Linked DNA regions of Homo sapiens: all the other regions are linked to region 1. The links come from fine-mapping of genetic effects on gene expression. A gene starts in region 1. Each other region holds a variant in brackets. All regions are shown on one strand. Distances are from middle to middle.

What was found.
Region 2: its variant is fine-mapped to the expression of CARMIL1 in tibial nerve (GTEx, PIP 0.99).
Region 3: its variant is fine-mapped to the expression of CARMIL1 in tibial nerve (GTEx, PIP above 0.99).

The regions. Positions count from the first base shown.
Region 1 is chr6:25,275,925-25,284,275 of GRCh38, forward strand. CARMIL1 (capping protein regulator and myosin 1 linker 1) reads left to right here and starts at 3,450. Exons shown (of 37, transcript NM_017640.6): 1 at 3,450-3,911. The coding sequence starts at 3,872. RefSeq lists a silencer at 3,178-3,647.
Region 2 is chr6:25,322,614-25,330,613 of GRCh38, forward strand. All of the region lies in intron 2 of CARMIL1 (capping protein regulator and myosin 1 linker 1), which reads left to right. It overlaps LOC124901281 (a long non-coding RNA gene), which reads right to left. Exons shown (of 3, transcript XR_007059512.1): 3 at 5,093-6,124. Among named protein-coding and RNA genes, the nearest start is that of CARMIL1, 47 kb to the left of the region's middle. The variant C/T (reference allele first, on the strand shown) is at 4,586.
Region 3 is chr6:25,302,613-25,310,612 of GRCh38, forward strand. All of the region lies in intron 2 of CARMIL1 (capping protein regulator and myosin 1 linker 1), which reads left to right. Among named protein-coding and RNA genes, the nearest start is that of CARMIL1, 27 kb to the left of the region's middle. The variant A/G (reference allele first, on the strand shown) is at 3,523.

The DNA.
Region 1 (8,351 bases):
TGTTAAGGATTCGTTCTGTTTTATTATTGTTATGAAACATTGCAAACACATACAAAAGTGAAAGCAATGCCTTCCCATGGATCTGATATCCAGCTGCAACAAAAATCAACACAAGGTCACTCTGATTTCATCTATATCTCTACTCAATACTCTCCACCCCCCACCATCCCTATGGGCTATTTTCAAGCAAATCTCAGGTCTCATATAATTTCATTTGTAAATACTTTAAAGGAGTATTGTTTAATAGCCATTTACCTTCCACCGTCTTCTAGTCAGAGATAAACTAAGTTTTCTTAGAGGTGTTTGCAAGCTTAGTTCACATTGCCTACCCTCCTGAAAGATCTTTATTAACCAAGTTGAAAAATACACCTTCTTAAGAAGGCCCCTTCCCCAATGGTTACTGGGGGTGGAAGGTAATCTTAAAATCATTACTTGGGGAGTAAAATGCTGGTGGTTCCCACATTTCTGAATACCTTTCCATTTTAAAACCAGTTCTTAATGCAGTAGACGAGATCAGAAACTGACCTACGTAAGTTTGTGATTTTTTTTTTTGTTAGAGTGCTGATTTCTTCTTAACTTTTTTGTTTGCTTTATCTCCATGGGTTTAATCATTACATGATATGGTTCTAATGATAGCATGTTGTGTCATTTTAGGGACACTATTTTCTGCAAACTTTTTTACTCAGAGTGTTTTCTGACCATAATGCATTACAAAATGTACTATATAGATGTGAATATATGCTTAGAATTAAAAATAAAAATCCATGGATAAGTTTTCAAAATAATGTTGCCACTCACTGTATGTTTCAAAAGAGATGGGGTTTCACTATGTTGCTCAGTCTGGTCTGTCCCAAACTCCTGGGCTCAAGCAATCCACCCACTTCGGCATCCCAAAGCATTTGGAATTACAAATGTGAGCCACTGCACCTGGCCTTGCCATGCTTTTCAAATTACACTCTTCTCCATCTTCCTTTTCAAAATAATGTTGCCACTCACTATATGTTAAATGTTAAACATTTTACAGATTCAAATGCAGTAGGGATTCTCTGAAAAAGTTTTATCTTACTAACAGCTTTCAGATTATCAGTACTAGTTGTATGGCTTAAACACAGCCACATGTAAATACTTACTTAGATGAAGCTATGGCTAATCACATATGTAACACAATCAGTTTCATGTAGTGGTTTGATCACTCGTGTATTCAAGACTATATAAACAGGGATGAATTTGAGGAAGTTGGAGTGATGGAGTGAGAAAAGTTTGTTTTTGCAGCAGTAGCAGTAGAAGGGGCAGGCCGATTCAGTAAACAAGCACACATTTCAGAATGCAAACTGCATTCTCCAAGCTGGCACCATGGTTTTACGGTGCTAGGGATGTTTACTGCTTGTTGGGTTTGCAGCTTTATAAACAGTGCTCCTTGGAGTTCTCTGCTTGCTATTCTGAAACATATTTGAGTTTTGCAACCGAGAAGTAAATGACTTTGATTTCCAAAATCAGTCAGTCATTTTTCAGTGTTGTGATAGGAGATTCATTTGAATTCACTTCTTCAGAGATGCAGGAGCCAATCAGGATCCTGTTGCAGTGAAAATGATTCTTTTATTGAAACCCCAGCTTCCTTTAAAAGAAGCCAAAGAGTACTGAATTACAGAACTGCCATACAGCCTTCCCTTTATTCTTTCCATCACCCAGGCCACAGGAAAAAAAAAAAAAAGACAAACTTTTGTTCTTATTTTCACAAGTTATCACATGGTTTGGAAACTTCAGGGCATTTCTGAAACTTCATTGGTATGTGCCAGAAAAGTCCTCTTTAACACACCAGGTTGAATGAAAGACAGTTTGAGATGTTAATTTCCATTTACTGCAGAAAAAATATATTTAATGCATTAAGGAAATGTCTAGCTTAAAGAAATTGCCCACTTTTGAAACAAATGGTTGGAGGCCTGAGGTCCAAAGCTCTAAAATCAGTTAACAAATGTTTATTGAACACCTATTTTGAACTAGGCTGTTGAAGAAGTTCAAAAGTCTAAGATAAATTCCCACTTTCAACTCACCTACAGTCTAGTTGGGCAGAAAAAATCCAAACTCAGGGGACAATGCAAGAGTTAGATAGTAAAACCAGACAAATACACAAGCAATGAAACACGACACCATATGGTTGGGTTTAGAAAAGTGTTTCAGGCAATACATATTGTAGAGGCTTAGGGATCACAGTAATCTGAAAATCCCTGGAAAATATTCACAAAGAAGGTAGACCATTGGGATGGGTTTGAAAACATAGATAAGAATCAGATAACCTTAAGAGGAAGGAGGAAGCAAACAGTGAGTCTGGTTGTAATAGAGAAGGGAGTGGGAGAGGTTAAGGAGGGTGGGAAGGGGCCAGGTTGGCAAATCCTTAGTGGTAAGGCCTGGCTGTGGGGCTGAAGATGATTCTAAGGGGTCCAAGGTCAACAGCAGTGTTTAAAATTAGATTGCCAAGTGCATGGATTCCCTTTCCTTTCCTCCTTTTCTGTCCTTTAAAAGCAGAACCTGATTAGACAGTCTGGGACATTCCCAGCCCTAGGCTAAAAAGCAGCGATTGAGGCACAAAGTATTCTTGGCCCTGAAGTTGAACCTCTGGGGATGGAGCTCAGGGAAGTCATAGGGAGTTTGGGCCCAGGTAGGATCAGACCTATCCGCAGGCTTACATAGGCTCCAGTGATTAAAGCTCAGCTTCCTGAATATGCCCCGAGGATAAAAGAGACTTTTCCGAGTGAAAGGCATTTTCCAAGGCGCTCTCAACGGGAATGTCTGAGATAGCGAACTGCGGCTGCAGAGCACCAGCTGAACGCACACACACAAGTGTCTTCTCACGGTATGATTAGTGTTCACAGGTTTCGTCTAGCTCATCAGAAATGAAGAATAGCGATGATGAAGTGACATGTCACCGGGAGGGTTGAAAAAGAAAAAGTGCGTAAGAGGGTCCCAAAAAGAACCAGCTTCCGTGTAGACGGGTCTGCAGAATCTGCCGTCTCCCGTCTTCTGGGTCCCCTGGCCCGCCCGGAGTGGGGACAAGGAAATGGAAAGCCCGGCTCACCCGGCTCTCCTCCCTCGCAGCCAGCAGATGGCTCCCGGGCTCTCTCGCGAGCCCGCTCGCCCCCTCTCCAGACGCAGGGCTTTTGCGGTTTGGGAGGGAGGCTGCGAGGAGGGGCGCGGTGCCCGCCGCCGCCACCGCAGCACCGCACAGCGTCTCTCCTGGGGGTGCGACCTACGCCGGGGACCCAGCGCTCGGGCACCGGAGGCCGGCCTCGCACCGGTGCGGAGGCCGGCTCTCGCGAGGTGAGGAGGAAACGCAGGAGGAAGAGGAGAAGGAGAAGGAGGAGAAGGAGGAGGGCCGGAGCTGCCCCCGCCCAGCCGGAGCCCGGCAGGAGCGCGAGGAAAACCTACTCCCCCCGCCCCGCGCCGCTCTCCCCGCCCTCTCCCACGCCTTCCGCTTTCACCTAGGGCTGTAGGTGCGGCGCGGAGGCTGGGCGGGAGCTACGCCGGCCCAAGCCCCGCCGGGGACCAGCGAGCCGGGAGGAGGAGCAGGCGCCACAGCCGCCCCGCGCCCCGCGCCCGCTTGTAATCCGGTCCGCTCCTTATTCAGCCGCCGGGAACTGCGAGGAGGCGTCATGTAGCAGCAGCAGCAAATCCGCCTCGCATTTGCAACTCTTTTTTTTTTTTTTGGTGGGGCGGGGGGCGCGCGGCAAAATTCTGTCTCCGCCCCCCCTTTTCTTGCCCACTTCCATTTGCAAGCTGCATCTGCCTCTCTAAAAAAATTGAGGAGTTCGGGGAAGGGCAGGGGGCCATAAATCAGAGTTGGACCTGCAATAACCCCCACACCTACAGGGCAACCATGACCGAGGAGAGCTCTGACGTTCCCAGGGAGTTGATAGGTAAGATTCACGCGGTTGTTGGTTTTCCACCTTCCTCTGCGTACTCCTCACCTCTCTCTCCCTTCCCACCTCTGCTTTCCCGCAGGTCTCGAGAAGTCTTGGCGCCCCTTAGGGCAGAGTGGTGTTGGGCAGGGTCACTGGGGGTGCCGGGAAGTTTGTTCCCATCCGACCGCCTGTAGAGCCAAGTGCAGAGAGGGAAGGCTTCGGGGAGGAATCGGGAGTCCTCGGGAGGTGGGTGGGAGGAGGGTCTCGACTGTGAGCCCTGGGCACCTCCTCTTGCCCGGAAGCGGGGATCCAGGTTGGCGAAAGAAGGGGGCGGGCCATCTTAGACTTGGGAGTTCTGCAAGCGAGGGGAGCCCTTTACAGCTCCCAGCCCACTGCCCCAAACTCGGGAAAGTCCGGGAAAGCCTATTGGAAGGACAGGTGGCGAGCGCACAGTAGGTCGTCTCCGGCACGTGTCAGGCGCTTTCCTGAAAATGCCCCGCGGGAGGTGATCTTCTGACACGCAGACTTGGGGGAGTGGGCGCTAGTCTGGTAAAATGACTGGGCTTGGCAAGGTGTGGCTTGGTGTAGCCAGCTGGGAGCGAAAGGGTTACAGGGCTGACGCAGACTCAGGCCAGGAAATAGAGGGTTAATGATAAAAGCCTTATTTTAATAATGATTAACCTACCGATTCTCCCTATAGGGGATCTCTTAGGGAACCCGTGTGTGTTACGCTGTGCAAGGTGACCCATTGTTTGAGTACCTTGAGGTTTTTTTTTTTTTGGTGGTGGTGGGGGCGGGGCTGGTTAAGTCTTGGGGTTTAACTTAATTATCTGGAGGGTTAAAATGGCAGAGCTGAAATAGGATGGGAGAGTGTTCTGAAAACCTAGCGTTTAAGCATGTATATGTGTGTAGCATGTTATACTGTAACAAGGTATGTGCGTCTGTGTACAGATGTGTTTTGAGCCCTAGTGACCTATATTCCCTCCTGTACCATTCTTGGCACACTACACAGCCTACAGCTCACAAAGATGATGTTTAATCGGCGCTGACAACAAGAGGAAGTTCTGAGCACCCGTTGATCTCCATGTGTGGAATTTGCCCCTCTGTTGTTTCTTTTAGCTAATAATACTTTGGAGGAATTTGTGTATGCCCTTCCGTTGGTGACTGTTAACTCAGCAGGTAAAACTTGATGTAGAGAGGCTGTTGCTAGGTTTGTATGGAAGCCCCTACTTCTGCTGAATTACAGACAAACCTGATCTTTTACCAGAATTTACAGTATGAAATTATTCACAGACGCACGCGCGTGTGCGCGCGCGCACACACACACACACACACACACACACACACACGCACCTCTCATCATGATCCCAGCAGATCCTCTTCTCTCTCCCCAACCCTGTGGAGTCTGCATCTTTTGCTGGAGTGAGTGACACATCCGGTTCTGGGAGGCTGCGACCTTTCCAACACCCCAAGCAAACGCCAGAGGCTCTGAAGACGCCTCCAGAGGTCCTGAGAATGAGTGTAGGGCAGGGCTTGCCTGGCTGGTCAGGGGATAAGGATGGCTAAAGTGGGTGGCAGATTTTTACTTTATATAAGGAGTTGTCCTTAAGTCTGGAAATGGAAAGTGTAGGTAATTACTTAGGCCCAAGAGAAAGAGTGAAGGGTAGAGTGGAAATAAGGTGTCTGGGTTTCTATTCATGGTTCTCAAAAGGAATAGTTTGTATATTTTAAAAGTTGAGTTTGACCTTTATCTTGAAATGGAATTTTTGTTTTTATTAAGTATTGCCTATCTCTTTCAAGAGAGTGACATATTATGCCCGATATGATTTTTCTGGGCCTTTCAGTGGTCAAGTTAGGCTGGGATAGAATAAATACCTGCACCTGCTTTCCTCTAAATTCAAGTGCTCACAAGAGTTCTGCTCTGATCAATTCAAAATGGCGACCGACCACATGAAAACCTCTATATATTCCCTTAAGATTCCCTCAAGATATTTAAAAAGTGTTACAGACTTGGCTGAGCGTGGTGGCTCACCCCTGTAATCCTAGCACTTTGGGAGGCCGAGGCAGGTGGATCACCTGAGGTCGGGAGTTGGAGACCAGCCTGACCAACATGAAGAAACCCGGTCTCTACTAAAAATACAAAAATTAGCTGGGCGTGGGGGCACGTGGCTGTAATCCCAGCTACTCGGGAGGCTGAGGCAGGAGAATCACTTGAACCCGGGAGGCGGAGGTTGCCGTAAGCCGAGATCAAGCCATTTCATTCCAGCCTGGGCAATAAGAGTGAAACTCCATCTCAAAAAAAAAAAAAAAAAAAAAAAGTGTTATAGACTTTATGTAGAAACAATTTAAATGTAGAGAAGAATAAGAAGACTATATGTCACTCCTGTTACCACTTAGAGGTAGTTATTTTAAAGGGTATATGATTTTCCAGTCTGTTTCCATGTGTATATGTTCTTAAGTCAATTTCAGATGCCCATTTCCCGCAATTCTTTTTTAGGGGAGGGAGGAGTGGCCTGTGCTTGTTTCTCGAGTTCTGATAAGATAGGAGCTTTGTGAAGAACTCATAGTGCAGTGAGCTCTTCTACATGTTCCCTTGCCCCAAACATTCCACCTCCTTGCTGTTCCTTGAACAGGCTGTGCTTTCTCAGATTTCCATGCTGTTCTTTATGCGTACACTGTCTTTTTCTCCCCGTTTTCACTCTTTATCTCAGCAGCTCTAAACTTTCATGGCGGTATTTCCAAGAAGAAAATTTTGATTACCCCTTATTAAACATATATTTGTTAAACTACATGCTCCATTTAGTGTGTATAATCTAAAACACAAACTGAAACACACATTGTAAGTAGAAATGAAAATTCTATTTTCTTCTTTCATCTCAATGGATTATATTGTACACTCTACTTTGGAAACCAGTGATCTTATTTCCTATGCCTTCAAGATTCAGCTCAGGGATCCTCTCCTCCCTGAAACCTTTGCGTGCTTCCGAATCCATGATCTTATGCATTGTGTGTGAATTTCTTTTATGACATCTCTCAGTGACCTCCACTAGATTGCAAACTCCTGTGAAATGCAAAGACCATCTCTATCTAGCACCTAGTAGAGTACCTGACATACAAGAGGTACTCCTATGTACATTTATTTGTTGAACATGTGAATAGACCAAAATGATTATAATACAGAATACAGAGGTATGGGAGCATAGAGGAGGGGACTGTATTTTGGAGGATAAGTAGAATATAACCAGGAGGACAATAGGGAAAGGGCATCCCAGGAAAGAGAATAATAGATACACAATCCTAGGGGTGTAAAAGATGAAGATATTAGGAATAATTGGATGTTTAGGTATGTGCTGAGAAGTCACACTGAAAATAAATGTGAAAGACCTTGAATGGCATGCCATGAGTTTTGGGTTTATTCAAAAATGACTGCAACTCGTAGACTGGGAGGGACGTGATGAATCTCACAGTTTTGGAAGAGTCACTGTGGTTATGGAGGTGACAGTGGGCTGATGGGTTAGAGGCCATGGACTTAGTCTTGGTGAGAGATTCTGAGGCCCTTACTGCAGTCATGCCTAGGTAGTCAGGAGCCGTGGAGGAGGTAGATTTTAGGAGACTGACTTTCTGTCTGAGAGAAAGGAGTTGGACATAAGCATTTTCCAGCAACATTAGTGTCCAGAGTAGGAGATAATGAGTTTGATTTCAGACGTATTCATTTTGAGGTACTCATGGGAGCCCTAGGAAGACTTTTCCACCACCATCTGAAATGTGAAGTCTCCAGATTTCTCCTTCTATTGCCTTTGACCACTTCTTGGGGGTATTGTGCTGTCATGATTTTGGAAGGACAGATGGCTGGGAGTGCCTTTGTTTGAGTAAATCATCTGGTATAGTTCTGGCTTATTTTTATTTTTTTGAGACAGAGTCTCACTGTGTCACTCAGGCTGGAATGCAGTGGCACGATCTCAGCTCCACTGCAACCTCCACCTCTCGGTTTCAAGCAATTCTCGTGCTTCAGCCCCTGGACTAACTGAGATTACAGGCACGCACCACCACACCTGGCTAATTTTTTTTTGTATTTTTAGTAGAGGCAGGGTTTATCCATGTTGGCCAGGCTGGTCTTGAACTCCTGGCCTCAAGCGATCCACCTTCCTCAGCCTCCCAAAGTGCTGGGATTACAGACGTGAGCCAACGTGCCCAGCCCGGTTCTGTTCTGTTTTGTTTTGCCGTATTCCCCAAACATCATGTCAAGACTTACTCATAGAGAATGCTAATATTTGTATGACACTATGGTGAACCCAGAGGCTGCTGGGCACCAGAGGTAACCAGCCAGGGGCAGAGGGAATTTATGAATTCCTGTTGTGTTCTGCATGCAACGTAGTGTTTCATCATACTGCCCAACTTCACTGTTTGCTGTTCTTTGTTTTTTCTTTTATATGTATCTTATTTTCCAAACAAGAT
Region 2 (8,000 bases), 47 kb after region 1:
CCACATTATGACCACCTGAAAAATGCTACACTGCAGTGGTACATTCTTCAGCCCAACTAGGATTGGATCAGAGGAGTTACTGGGTTGATAGTCTTGGACTGAAGCTCTCTAAAGAGCAGAATTTCTGTGATGTGCAGGTAGCTTACTGTTACCCTGTAAGCTCCATTTTTTATATTTCTTTGCCCCTCCTTCTCAATATTCACACAGTTTTCACAGGACTGATTCAAGTGTGAAGCCAGGATCTCATCTTTTAACAGAGTGGCATTCCGCACAGTCTGAGGCATGATCTCTTTGTGTCTAGGTTGCTCCATTTAGCTTCAAAGGCAGCATGATGATTTATGGTCCATTTGTATTAGGGAAGACTCAGAGGAGGGCTAGAATTGTGATGGTTGGATTAATTCATTTTTTCCAGGCGCACCCTTTCCTCCCTATTCTTGGTTGTTTTGCAGATATCCCAAGTAATTCCAGATTCATTTGGAAGGTTTCTCTCTCAGTAGCCTGCTCTCTAGGTAGTTCTCAAATTCTAATAGACGCACAGACACAAAAATCTGCTTGGTAGGTGGGGTTTTTACTTTTTAGTGACTTTTATCTTGTGTGCCTGACCTGGTGCAGCATCTGGAAAAGTATTGGTAGAAAAGAATATTCTCAGTGAGAAGGAGAAGGAACAAGTAAAACAATGTGAACTAAAGGCCTGGCACAGTGGCTCACGCCTGTAATCCCAGCACTTTGGGAGGCCAAGGTAGGAGGGTGGCTTGAAACCAGGAATTCGAGACCAGCCTAGGCAACAGAGCGAGACCCTGTCTCTACAAAAAAAAAAAAAAAAAAAAGGCAAAAAACCCCCCAGAATTAGCCAGGTGTGGTGGCACATGCCTATAGTCCCAGCTACTCGGGAGGCTGAGGCGGGAGGATTGCTTGAGCCCAGGAGTTTGAGGCTGCCATGAGCTATGATCACACCACTGCACTCCAGCATAAAAAGCTTGGTTATTTATCTTAGTTAAAGCTGTCCTTAAAGAATTTATAAATGGTTGCAAATATTTCTGAAAATCATAGATGTATGGTTTCTATGGTTCCTGGTTACTTTATCCAGTAAAGTAACATGACAGCTTATTTTATGGATAGTCACTAGATTGTAAACCTTTGGAAGTTGGGACTGTTCCATTCATCATCTTCACATTCCCCACTGTGCAAAGCACAGTTTGCTCATTTGTTTTGTTTCATTTTTTTCCCTTTCAACTATAGTTTTCACATGTAAACCATCAAATTATAAGAGATTAAAGATAATTTAGGATTTAGGGTGTTTTGATTTTCTAGCTCATAAAATAAGGATGGAAGAGCAGTGATCAGTTGTGGTAATTGACTGTTATGGCAGAAGGCAAAAAGGCACAGAGAAAAGAGATAGAGGACAAGCCTGTTCTGGTTGGCATCCCAAGTCTAGATCCTCCATCTGGGAGCCCATGGCTCAGATAATACTCCAGGTAATCATGAATTGTGGGAGTTAACCCTGTTTAATGCCCCACAAAGGAACAGACCTGTAGGAACACCTTCTCCTGTCTGCTGCTGCCACAGAGGGTAGCAAATCCCATGCTAGGCGTGGAGAGGAGACTTGGGCATGTCCCTGGAGGGACACTGCTGCAGTCACTTCACTTACAGAGCTGGGGAGGCCCTGAATGGTGTCAGAGTTCACAGTGCAAAGCAGTAATTATGTTGAAGAATGTGACATCTCAAGATTCAACAAGTTTTTTTTTTTTTTTTGCCTTAAACATGAATGCCTATTCATAGAGGGATTATAGGAGCAAAGCTCTCTTAGATATTAAACACCCTGATCAGAAGAAAAAGAGAAGCAAATTCCTGATGTCAGGAAATAGCAGCAAATTTTTACAGAATGCTTAAGCCTGGCACAGCAATCCTAAGAATGTTGTTCAGTTTCATGGCTTTTCCTCTCATATTGGGCTGAATGTAACTTGTCCTTCATTTATGTAACAAAATATTTGAGTGCTTACTGTGAGCTAAGCACTTTCTCAGTGTTGGGAGTAAAGCAACAAGCAAAGCAAATCCCTAAGCTTTGGGGAGATGGAAAATAAATATCTGATAAAGTATATGGTAGTCATAAGAGCTGGGAGGATAGGAGATGGAGTAGGGTGATGGGTGCTGTTGGAGATAATATGTCAGGGAAGGGGGGGTGTTTAGTAGAGGGCTGAAGTGAGGGAGAAGGTGTTCCAGGTGAGGGCACAGGTGTGAATGTAGACCCTAATGTGGAAGTGTGCTTGGGTGGGTCAAGGAAGTGAACCCTAAGAGGACCACTGGGCAGAAGTGGAAGAGCTAGGATAGGGAGGTGGGGCTGAGGGTGACCAGGGGCCAAGCCATGCAGAGCCTCTTAGGTCCTGAGCTTTCTCAGTGGTCTCCCCTTCATCTGCTTTGGAGCTTGCTTTCCTATGTGGCAACATTAGTTCTAGTGTGATGAATATTAGTGGGAAAATAGAAAGTTCTATATAAAACTTACTTCTGGAAACTAAAGGATTCTTGCTTAGACCTCAGATGTTGATGGGTGGTAGATTAAAGGCCGTTTTCTCATTTGTTGAGCTGTGCCCTGAGATGAGTTTTCTATATTCGTGTGGTAGAGAATTCATTGAAACTTGAATACGTGCCATTATGTGAGGCAGAAGTGTATATTCTATGAAAGGGTGTTGACATATTGTCACATACCATGAGCTGCTTAATCTGGGAATATTTGTAAAAGTGTCATCTGGTGTGAAGGCTGATATTTAACTATCTTTAAAAAATACTGGAAAAGACAATTTGCTTGCAGATTTTAGGGTTTTGCTGTGGGTCTGTTTTTGTGGAAATGATTTGTGTTCAGTAGCATTTTTTCCCCTACAGTTTTCATATGGTACTGTTTTGACTTGTTTGGAAGATAATTTGCTTGGCTTAAAGGGAATTATTCGAACAATCTTAGAAGTTTAAAAAATTATGTTAGCTAGAAATCAGAAGTTTTTGCCTTTACTGAAAAGTTCATTATTTATTCATTAATTTATCCATCCATTTATACAACAAAAAGTGATTCAGCATGTAGCGTGTAGCAGACAGTGTGCTGAAGATACAGCAGATGTAACAGATATGGCTTGATTAGTCTTGCTAGGCAGCAAGAGACAAACATATGCATACACTTCCACACTAATTATGGTAAGGGCTAAAACTTATTGAAAACAGTATAGTGATAGGGAATTTGGAGTGGGGTGGGGAGCTGTGTAGGATAGTCAGATGAGACTTTTTTTTTTGAGACAGAGTCTTGCTCTGTCGCCAGGCTTTAGTGCAGTGGCGCAATCTCAGCTCACTGCAATCCCCACCTCCTGGGTTCAAGCAATTCCCCTGCCTCAGCCTCCCTAGCAGTTGGGACTACAGGCGCGCACCAGCTCGCCCGGCTAATTTTTTGTATTTTAGTAGAGACGGAGTTTCACCGTGTTGGCCAGGATGGTGTCGATTTCCTGACCTCGTGATCCGCCCACCTCAGCCTCCCAAAATGCTGGGATTACAGGCGTGAGCCACTGCGCTCGGCCTAGATGAGACATTTTTGAGAAAATAACATTTAAGATGAGGCCTGAAGGAAAATAGTGCCAGCCATTTGAAGAGTGAGGGAAAGGGGTTTCCAGGCAGATTCAATATATTGTGCAAAGGCCCTGAGGAAGTGTGTGGTTTTAGTGGAGAGCTAAAGAACCATGAGGCAAGAGCATCGGGATATCCAAGAAGTCATGCTGGATTACATATACTGGTCAGTAAGGAGCTTGGATTTGATTTTACTGGGGAAATAACATAATCTGATATGTTTAAAATGATTACTGAGGCTTCTAAGTAGAGCATTACACTGTTAACAGTAGTGGGAGTGAGAGGTCAGGCTTGGTCTAGGGCAGTGCTTCTCAATGTGTGGTCTCAGGATCAGCCCTATCAGAATGACCTGGAAACCTGTAAGAAATGCATACTTCAAGTCTTATTATGGACTTGCTGATTCAGAACCTGGAGGTGGGACTCAGCAATCTGCTTTAACAAGTCCTTTGGATGATCTGATATACAGAAAAGTTTGAGAACCACTGGTCTAGGGATTGCTGGAGGAGATGGTAAGCAGTAGATGGATTCTGGTGTATGTTTTGAAGGTAGGGATGATAGGACTTTTGTATATGGGAGCTGAGGAAAAAGGAGAAATCAGAAATATTATTATTATTATTAATGTTTCAAGACGGAATCCCACTGTCACCCAGGCTGGAGTGCAGTGGCATGATCTTGGCTCACTGCAACCTGATAAGGACCTTGTTTATTGTGATGAGGGAGACTGGTGGGGGTAGCAAAAGGACATAACTTTTGAACACATTGCGTTTGGAGTGTTCATGAAATGTCCAAGTGAAGATGTTGGCTGTTGATGGCAAAATGAGCGTACAGTCCAGAGGGAAGATGTAGTTTCAAATACAGCTCAGCAGAAAGATACAGTTTCCAGAAAGGAATTTGGGACTTGCCAGTGTACAGGGAGTATTTAAAGCAATTGAAATAGGTGTGATATCACCAAGGAGAGAGATAGCAAGGAGAGAGGGTGCAAGAG[C/T]GGGCAAAGGACCAAGCTGGAAGGAACTCTTGACATTCACAGGAGCAAGAGCCAGCAAAAGAACAGAAAGAACGGCCAGGGAGAGAAGAGAAGAAAACCAGGAAACTGGTTTCATGGGGAAATATTTCAGGAACAGAGTGATCAACTGTGCTTAATTTGTATGATGAAGCGGAGATTTGTAGCATAGAGATCACTAGGCATTCTATTTGGACTGTCAGTGAAATTGAAATAAAAAGTCAAGAATCAACTTGATTTCCATCACAGGTTTTAGATTAGAAGAAACCAGAGAAACACAGCCCCAATTTTCTATTTGCTAGTTTTCCAAACAGTAAGTTTTCATTGATTTCACTGGCTCCCCTCCGGCTACTATTTGCTGTGCACAAACAAAGTCTGAATGAGCATTTTGTAGTCCTGAAAAGGAGTAGCATATGGGCTTCAACAGCCGGTCATATTTTCTTTTATTACTATATTTAAAGCAACATTCAAGATTAAAAAAAAATTCCTGGCAACTAGCATAACAAGCTGCAATAAAATCATTCCTGGCTATTGATATGGGCTACTTTGTGCCTCATGTCATGTTATTGAATCCAACTTCTTGGAATTGACTGTCTTAATCTGTCACTTAGCAAATTTATATTGGTGAGGAAGAACAAAAACAGATTTATAACTTGCATATCTCTTCAAGCTTCTGTTAATATGCTCAATATTAGAATGTTCTACTTTTAGCGTTTTGGGTCATAAGCTATAGAACATTGGGGCTTGGTGAGAGGATATGGGCATGGGGAGAGGAATGAATATTTGGCATTATTTATGTTTGAACCATTGAGCTGGGGTCTTTAGGTTTATTATTTCATTTAATTCCCACTCTGACGTAGGTGGTATTTCCCTCATTAGTAGATAAGGAAATGAGCTAGTAAAGAAAACTATTTAAATCCAGATCTAAAATGGATCTTTATTCTGTGCCAAGCTCTTGGGGGAAGAGTATGTGTGGAGGAGGAGTTGTGGGGACTCACAGAGCAGTGGCAAGGCAAGCCAGAGATACAGCAAAGGGATATCAAGGACTAATGAGGTACTTTAAAGGAGATCGAGTCATGGTAAGGCATTTAAATTAGTTTTGTTAGCAAGTACTGCATGGAACAGGAAGACTCTGTACATGCTCAGTGTAGGGCTTGGTCCGTCAAGACTGGCTAGGAGTTTTCTAGATAGAGCCTTGAATCTTGCATTACAGTCACTACAGAGCATGAGCTCTGTGGACATTTCATGAAAAGCTTCCTTTCTACTTGGATATATTTTTTTACTTCTTGTGTGCATACTTGATTTATTTACTGTTCCTTATAGAGCTGCAAGGCCTTGTTTCTTTTCTATAGAAGTTATATTTCTCTGAGTTCAGATGTCACATCTTCGTTACCTTCTCTCAAGTTTTGCTATACAAGCTTAGGAACGTCATCTCTTTCTCTTCCAGAGTTATCTTCCATCATGTAGGCTTTGGAGCCACTTTCCTCAGAGCCTCCATTTGCCTCACCTCTTCTTGCCTGGGACCTTGTAAAAACAGTGATTGTGGTAATTAAATTGAGATATGAGGAATATATATAACTATTATGTAGTCATAATAATTAAAAATTTAAAAAAAATGCAATGAGAGGGGAAAAAAATCTCCTGGATTGGTGAGCTAGACAAAACTTCATGTTAATTAACATGGATGCTTTAATCCATCTATTCCTGAGTCCAGGACATCAAATCTTGGGTTCTACAATGGGTGCCAGTCTTAGGAGGGTCATATGTATTTCCAGTCACAAAAGATCTTTCTGTCATGTTGGAGAAGACAAAAGTTTATAAGAATCAGTGGGCCATTTAAAATGATAATGAGCAACTTAGGCGTAAAGCCAGATGTCACAGGCTGGTGGCTTGCAGCCTGCTCTACTGTGCTTTAAATACGCAGTATTTAAAAAATTGATGTTGGTTCCCAATATTTATAAATTGGGAGATATCAGCCATAAATCTAGATTCCATCCTCCCCCACCTTTAAAAAAAAGAAAGTTGGATCTGGGAACACTAGGTCTATGTTTGTGCTTAGCAGGAATCGGAAGAGCTGGGTTGTGACCAGGCTCTTTCTTTTAGCAGTGGCAAGCTCTTTTCAGCTTTCTGCCATCCCGAAAGCACCCTAGTGTTTCTCATTGGCCGTGATGCCCATGTTGACTGCAATTTGTCATTGTCCTCAAGGCTGTCGTTTTTTCCACAGAGCCGGCTTTGCTCTTTGACAAAGCTACTTTGGCCTCCTTATACATTTGAGTTCATTGATCCTTAGCCTAAATGATCAGGACATGACACATTCAGAAGTTTGTATTATCTTGTAAAAGCACATGAGCAAAGTCTGTCTAGTAAGTGACATTGCTGGTATTCAGACCAGGATATGGCTGAGAGGAAGCACATATGTAAATTGAATGCATCAGGGATCTTTTGGAGAAGTCAAACAAGAATTCTGATTACCTCATCAGTGATACCTAAATGCAGATTTCTTCTTGCTTCAGACAAAATTTTTCAAAGATACTCAAAGTATCTCAGCTCTTGTTGTATGTGTGTTTTGAAAGATAGGGTTGAAGAAAACAATGAAAAGATAACAGGGATATCTGTCCTCCAGAGTTGTTCAGGGGATTCAGCATATGAGAAGTTATTTGCGAAGTTTTAGTTCCCAGTCTGGGCATCAGCTCATTATCATTAGTCTCTGATATGAGTTGTTTAATGATGAACTTGTGCAAAGCACTTGATCCTATTCAGCGTCAGACATTCATTGTTAAAAGAACACATTGAGGACACTGTTGTAGGTCAGGAAATTGAAGGTAGGGAGTTGAGGGCAAGTAGAAGAGAGTTTCATTCTGGAGTTAGTTCAGTAAACATTGAATGCTCATGATGTGTCAGGCTTTATGCTGCTACCAGAGGCAGGAAGATAAATAAGACAGAACATGCAGACTTGAACAGTACGGTGTGGTAAGAGGTGTGCCCATGGTACTGTGCGATTATAGACTGGCGTTGGCCCAGTGCAGGGCTAGAGGGATGCTCCATGGTGATGACTGAGTTGAGCCTTAAGGCCCGGATGAGCTGGCCAGGTAGTGATGACAAGAGGGAGAGGGATTTAAAGTGTGAAGTTCAATTTAAGGAACAGAGATGATGCAGGAAGGGCTAAGATATGGAAGGCTTTGATGAAGATTTTGGGGAGCCAGGGAAGAAGGGGAGAGATGATCAGATTTCCATTTTGATTGCAGCTTGGTAACTGGATTACAGTGTGGCAGAACTGGAGGCTGGGAGACCAGGAAGGTTTCAACCAAGTTAGAAAATCATTTTTGGTTTAGAAGACAGTGAGGGGCTGGGTGTGGTGGCTCATGCCTGTAATCCTAGCACTTTCTCAGGCTGAGGCAGG
Region 3 (8,000 bases), 27 kb after region 1:
GCTGCTTTCCTCAGGGGCCCAGCCAGTCTCTTTACTCAGCAGCCTTATCTGACATAGCCCATCTTTAATTTAGCTTTGTTCACGATGCAGGGATCAATAACAGCGATGCTGGGAGGGAGGGAGAATGGCCAACTGCAAACAGCCGCCCATCTCAGCACTTGAACTGAACTCTACTTTGGTCAGGATGATTAGTGCAGTCTGGAGAGCCATTAAGTGCTCTCTGACTAGTTCATCTGAGTTCTGCTTCCCACTACACTCAATGACTAACCCAGGAGATTACAGATGCTTGAGGAGAAAGAGTGTCGTGTCTCCCTGTGTGGTACTGAGTAGTGTTTGTACCACTGTCTCAGGAATGTGAATTACAGTGCAAATGAGCTGCCTCTCTTGTTTCCTTTTCTGCACGTCATTTTAGAGAGAGTGATTTATTTTCTGTTTGCGAAGGCTTGGTCTCATCATTTAGATGAGAGAGAAATTGCATGTACTTTCAACTTTTGGCTGGTTATAGGCATCTCCTTTTTTTTTTTTTCCATTGTGAGAGTTGTTTATGCTGATTGAATGAAAAGATTCGTTTTCTTAGGCTTTCAGTGATGACACTCCATTTCTTCCATGTGATAAAATTATAATGCGTGATTTTATTTTATTATTTTTTAAAAGTAAAACTGTCACCTAACATTTCCTCTACAGTTGGGTAAAAAACTAAGAAAAGCATCTCATTTCCTATTGGTTCCATGAGCAACCCTTTTTAGCATACAGATCAGAAGCCTTGTGTGGCTCTAAGCCTATTTCCTCAATTGGGGAAGTAACAGACTCTGTTCCCAAGATATGAATAGGTGTGCTGGGTGAGAAGTGCTCTGTGCTCAAGGACTTTGACCCTTCATTTTCCAAACTTAAACAAGTTTCTCCATTTCTCTGTTCTTAGAACCTTTGGTATTCATATACTTAACATGTACATTTCTTGAAGCGCCAATTATCATCTCACAGGACACTGGTGTTCCAGGGAACTTGGAGAAAAGCTGACAAGTTATTTTAGTGTGTTATCTTTTACACAAAGGGACTCTGTTTTAGAATTTGCCATATCTGCTTTAACGCTGTACAAATTAGCCAACTGGAGAAATATATGTTAAATAACGGGTGAACAACACATAATCACCCAACCTACTTTTAGGAAGATTACTAAAACATTCCATTTAACAATCATTCAGCACTATCTGTTTGTAAAGGACACGTAAGTTTTAAAGGAAGAAGCTGGTGACTTGGGAATGGACTGGAATAAAGTCAGAGAAGTCCTTTGTCCAGGGAACTTCATCATTGGGTTTGACTTGAGAAGAACAAATCAGATAAGATTAGTCTCCTCATTATAAATGTTTAAGGTAATTTCAGATCACTCTGCTTTAAAAGTCTTGTGAAATGGGGTTGGGAAAGTTTCCTTAAATCATTTACACTTGTTGATTGTGTGCAGTTTATATTATGAGCCTGCTGCCCCCACAGGTGCTGAGCTGTGCTCACACATGGGAGGGGACATCACAGAAAAGAAGACGTAGATTTATTACCTATGGTTCTGAACTGGGACAATTGATAAAAATTACAGGTGCTGAGGATTGGCTTGAAACGCAGAATAATCTTCCTAACAGAGCTGTCCACTCATAGAATGTGCTTATTGTGAGGGTGGGGATAGAGGATGGGGAATTGAATTCCTTGCAGCTGGGTAAGTTCAAGTATAGATTGCTTGCCCTCTTAACTAGGATGTCCTATAGAACAGCCGTCCCCAACCTTTTTGGTACCAGGGAGTAGTTTTGTGGAAGACAATTTTTCCACAGACCGAGTGGGTAGGGGGATGGTTTTGGGATAAACTGTTCCACCTCAGATCATCAGGCATTAGATTCTCATAAGGAGTGTGCAGCCTGCTTCCCTCGCATGTGCAGTTCACAGTAGGGTTCACGCTCCTATGAGAATCAAATGCCTTGGCTGATCTGACAGGAGGCAGAACTCAGGTGGTAATGTTTGGTCACCTGCCGCTCACCTCCTGCTGTGCGGTCTGGTTCCTAACAGGCCACAGACTGGTACTGGTCCACAGCCCAGGGGTTGGGGACACCTGCTATAGAACATTCAAGTAGGAAAATACTTCCTTTGGTCTAAGATTCTGAAATTTACAATGTTCCCTGCTCATATATCAAATGATGTATTAGCTAGAGCTTATTGAATGTCACAGTTTTACTGTCAAGAACTTAAAACTTCTATTATGAGGCAGAGCATTTGGTAAGGATAGTTGAGTCCCTCAGTGACTGTTTGGATTGGTTCTATGTCCTAGGATTGAGTACATGATATCATTTTGATGAGGTTAAAATCCAATTAGGAGGTCTGTCCCTTTGGCTGCTGGCTGGGTTTGTTACTTTTTAGTTCCAGTAGAGATATGTGAAGCTTTTCTGAACATGTTTAGCAAGGTTTGATTTTGGCATTTCTGAATATAACTGTGAGAAGAATTATCTTCCTGCTGTCCTGGTGGCAGAAGACATTGGACTTTGTTTGCTTGTCTCTTTGGGGGCAGATACACGGGCATTTAAAGAGCCATTCTAATTTTAGGAACTTGAGAATCAGGAGTCCTGAGGGTTAGTGCTAATACTTTAAAAGGTTCTTAGGTCTGCAATTTTAGTTAATAGTGTGGGGCTGAAAAAGCCTTTTTCCAGGAATATTGTGAGAGTAAGTGGGAAGTAGAGCTTTTAGAATTTTAGGAGAAAAGGGCATGGCTATTTCAGTTAATAATACATGAAGAGTTTTCTCCTTTCAGAGTCCTCCTTTCTTTGGGTTTCAAAAGGTAAGACAATCCACGGGTTTTTTAGTTTGTCTTTCAGGTGAATTGTAAAGTTTTCCTGTAAATACTGTCATTGCACTGACATGGATATTGCTGAGCAGATAAAACAAATAGCAAGTTGAGGAGGCAGTTAATTCACACTCTTCCTTCTCTAATATGGTCTGCGGCTCTAAGAATTGTTGTCTCATCCATGGCTTTTAGACCCTTAAATTTTAGTGAGTTTCATCACACGGAAACTATTGATAATTTCTTCTTCTGAAGTTTTTTGTAAGTGGTCCCTGCTAGCTAATGGTGCACAAAATGAAGCAATACAACATTTCTCTTATGGGGACTGGGAGAGAACTGACATCCTTTATAAATATGTAGCTGATATATAGGTTACCAGCCTAAGGGCTGCCTGGTGGGGAAAGTGAGGCCTGTGCCTGTCTCTACCACTGAAGACATGTTCATCAAGCCAATATATGCCTCAGACATTAAAAATATCCTTTTTTTCATTTTAAAATAATTGCCATTAAGTATACATAACATAAAATTTACCATTTTAACCACTATTAATAAATATATGTTCAGCGGCATGAAGTATATTCTCAATGTTATGCAACGTATCCATTTCCAGAACTTTTTCATCCCAAACAGAAACTGTATCAAACACTGAGTCCTCATTCCACCTCCCCATCGCCCCTGACAATCACTAATCTACTTTCTGTTTCCAT[A/G]GAAACAGAAAATATCCCTATTTGGCATGTTTTATATAAATCAATTATATAATACGTGGCCTTTTGTGTCTGGCTTGTGTCATTTAGCAGAAGGGTCCCCAACCCCAGGGCTGCGGATAGGTACTGTTCCATGACCTTTTAGGAACCTGGGTCACACAGCAGGAGGTGAGCGGCAGGTAAGTGAGCATTACCGCCTGAGTTCTACCTCCTGTCAGATCAGCGGTGGCATTAGATTCTCATAGTTACGAGAACCCTGTTGTGAACTGTGCATTCAAGAGATGTAGGCTGTGTGCTCCATATGAGAATCTAGTTGATGCTCGATGATCTGAGGTGGAACTTTTTCATCCTGAAACCATCTCTCCTCCCCCCCACTTTTATTGAAAAGTTGTCTTCCAGGAAACCAGTCCTTGGTGCCAACAAGGTTGGGGACTGCTGACTTAGCATATGTTTTCAAGTTTCCTCTATGTTGTAGCATGTGCTAGAAGTTCATTCCTTTTTAATGCTGAATAATATTCTGTTGTATGCATATACCAATTTTTAAAAAAGTCATTCATACTTCAATGGACCTTTGAATTGTTTTTATTTTTTGGCTACTGTGAATACTATTGTGAACATTACTGTATGGCTGAACATTGCTGTATCTGAGTTCCTTCTTTCAGTTCTTTTGAGTATATACCTAGGAGTGGAATTACTGGATCATATGGCAGTTCTGTGTTTAACCACCTGTTTCCTGCAGTGCCTTGGCTTTTTTTTTTTTTTTTTTTGACGAGTCTCATTCTTGTCGCCTGGGCTGGAATGCACTGGCACGATCTCGGCTCACTGCAACCTCTGCCTCCCCAGTTCAAGTGATTCTCCTGCCTCAGCCTCTGGAGTAGCTTGGCTTACAGGCGCCTGCCACCACGCCTGGCTAATTTTTTTGTATTTTTAGTAGAGACAGGTTTTCACCATGTTGGCCAGGCTGGTCTCGAACTCCTGACCTCAGGTGATCCGCCTGCCTTGGTCTCCCAAAGTGCTGGGATTACAGCTGTGAGCCACCGCGCCCGGTCGCCCTGGTCCTTTTGAAACTGGGCAGTAATACCTGTGCTTGTAAGAGTGTTTACAAATATTTATCAGCCTTTTGGAACTTTAAATTAGAAAAGTGAACAGACTGTATTTGTTAGCACTTTATATACTTACATTATGTCATGGAACTTATTATTCGTGTTTCCTGAATGTCTGTTGTTTGGATACCTGTGTGTGTTTCCTACTCTATTAGAAATTCCTTGACCTGATCTGCAGTTCTCCATCTTTGTCCACCTTTTTTGTACCTTGTACTCAATAAATGTTTGTTGATAAATTGATTAGATGTGCAACATATTCTAAAGTATTATTTTTAAAAAAGAGATCCATTTACAAGAAGCACATTGGAATTATTTCCAGGTTTTGTTTTGCTAAAGTTAAGATCTGACATTATTTGTTAATTTCTCTTGGTTATGGAATGAAAAGTATTCCCACTGTTAAAAATAAATGTTAGATGTAGGAAGTAAACAGAGATGTATTTAGACATTGGGGAAAGGCTTCCACTGGGATCTGAAATATTGTGGGAAGAGAATCGCTATTGTTAGAGTAGTTCTGTGCCGTGTTAGTCTTTATTTTGTTTAGATACTGCTTTTTTGGGGGACCACTCTGCAGGCATCTAAATCTGAAGTGTAAGCCTCTTTTTTGATAAATGAGGGATAGCTAAAAGATGGGTTATTTTGGTTATTGGTTTTGCTTTTAATAGATAACCAGAATTTTTACCTCTTGGGAGAGAATGTTATCTACTTATTTATAGCAAGCAAGTGTTGTTACGGCAGGTGGCTGTGGATGTTGGCATTCAAATGGCACTGATAAGACTTTAAACAAGGTAGCCATCCAGTTATGCTTAGGCTAAAAAATGGCTGTGTGCAGATTAGGCTACATATTTCACATGGATATAAAGTTCTACTTTTATTAACAAACATAACAGTGCATTGCTTTTGTGTTTTTAGTTTCTCTTAGCCCTTATTTCTTGTCTCTTTTGGTGGCTTGCTGTTGTCTATAGCTGAGCTGAAACTTTCTGTGCAGGAATTAAGCTTAAAATATCAGTTTGTAGTCAGCTGTGGAGTATGATAAAACTTTGAGCAACACAGTTTCCAACAACACCCCTTTGTCACTGTGCCTGAGAAAGCTCTTATTAATAGAATTTCATGTGAGGTTCCGTGAGAAGGACTATTGTACAACCATTTTTTTTTTTTTTTTTTTTTTGAGATGGAGTCTCCCTTTGTCACCCAGACTGGAGTGCAGTGGCACGATCTCGGCTTACTGCAACCTCTGACTCCCAGATTCAAGTGATTCTCCTGCCTCAGCCTCCCGAGTAGCAGGGACTACAGGCGCGTGCCACCACACCTGGTTAATTTTTTGTATTTTTCATAGAGATGGGGTTTCACCTTGTTGGCCAGGCTGGTCTCGAACTCCTGACCTTGTGATCCACCTGCCTTGGCCTCCCAAAGTGCTGGGATTACAGGCGTGAGCCACTGTTCCGGCCATTTTTTTTTTTAACAGTGAAACAGGGAAACATAATATTTTTCTTACTTTAAAAAATCCTTCAGTTTATAATCATCAGGAGTATTGGATATCTTTTAAGTGAAGGTGGAAGTTCACTTAATAAAAAAGGAAGCTCATTTTTCCTTCTTTGAATGGTTAACATGGGAGTACCCCAAGGTGGAAGCTTTACATGACTGAGAAAGCCCATCCACTCATTGTCATAGAATCAACTATTAATTCAACAAATACTTATGGAGCCTTTGCCATGCCTATGAGCCTTGTGCTAGAAGCCAGGGATAAGTAAAATAAATTCTGCACCTGCCTCCTGCAACTTAGTCCAATTTCCAGGTCTCCCTTAGATTTTTCTCTGTTTTAATTTTTATTTTGAAAATGGAGACAGGGTCTCACTATGTTGCCCAGGCTGGTCATGAACTCCTGGGCTCAAGTGATCCTCCCGCCTAGGCCTCTTAAAGTGCTGAGATTACAGGCATGAGCCATCACACCTAGCCTCTCTCTTAAAACAACTTTATTAAAGATGTAATTCAGGCTGGGTGTGGTGGCTCACATCTGTAATCCCAGCACTTGAAAATTACTTGAAGTTGGGAGGTGGAGGTTGCAATGAGCTCAGATCATGCCACTGCACTCCAGCTTGGGTAACAGAGCAAGAGTCCCTCTCAAAAAAAAAAAAAAAAAAAAAAGTAATTCACATACCATACATTTCACCTGTTTAAAGTGTACAATTCAGTGGCTATTAGTATATTCACAGAGTTGTGCATCTATTACCAGAATCAATTTTGAGCCTTTTTTTTTTTTTAACCCCAAAAAGAAACCTCTTCCCTTTAACACTTATCCCCAGTCCACCTATCCTTCTCAGCCCTTGGCAACAGCTAGTCTACTTTCTGTCTCTATGGACCGGCCTAGTCTAGATATTTTATATAAATGGAATTATATAATATGTGGCCTTCATGTCTGGCTTATGTCATTTAGCATAATATTTTCAAAGTTCTTCCATGTTGTAGCATGGGTTAGAACTTCATTCTTCTTTTATTATGGTTGAATGATATTCCACTGTATGAATATACCACATCTTTTTTTTTTTTTTTTTTTTGGAGACAGAATCTTGCTCTGTTGCCCAGGCTAGAATGCAATGGCACGATCTCGGCTCACTGCAAGCTCCGTCTCCTGGGTTCAAGGGATTCTCCTGTCTCAGCTTCTCGAGTAGTTGGGATTACAGGTGCACGCCACCGCACCCGGCTAATTTTTGTATTTTTAGTAGAGGTGGGGCTTCACCTCCTTGGCCAGGCTGGTCTTAAACTCCTGACCTCATGATCCACCCGCCTCTGCCTCCCAAAGTGCTGGGATTACAGGAGTGAGCCACCCCGCCGGGCCACATCTTTTTTTAATCTATTCCTTCACTAATAGATTGTGGGTTGTTTCCACCTTCTCACTATGTGAGTAATGCTCTTATGAGCGTGCATACAAGTTTTTGTGTGGGCATATGTGCTCAAGTCTCTGATCCCCTAGATGTCTTGCCTATCCTACAGATCCAGGCCTACCACAAAAAAGTGTAGAAGGATCATATACCATGAGAACATAAAGGAGGGACATGTAGACTTAATTAGGGAGTCAGGGAAGGCTGCCCCTGAGGCCACCATATCCAAGCTGCGGCTTGAGAGATAGGTTGAATAGAAAAGTTTTTCAAACTGCAGCTGATCACCCATTAGTAGGTTGTGAATTCAGTTTAGTGAATCATGGCCAGCATTTTTTAGGAGGTGAACTAAAATAGAATAGTAGATGTTAGAGGACATTCCATGTGGTAAGGGTAAGTATTGTTGCATGAAATTTATTTTCAGTAGCTATATGAGCGCATCTAGCAAATTGTGACGTAAGAAGTATTCTATATTCCGGGTTGCAATCAGAAAAATATGAAAGCC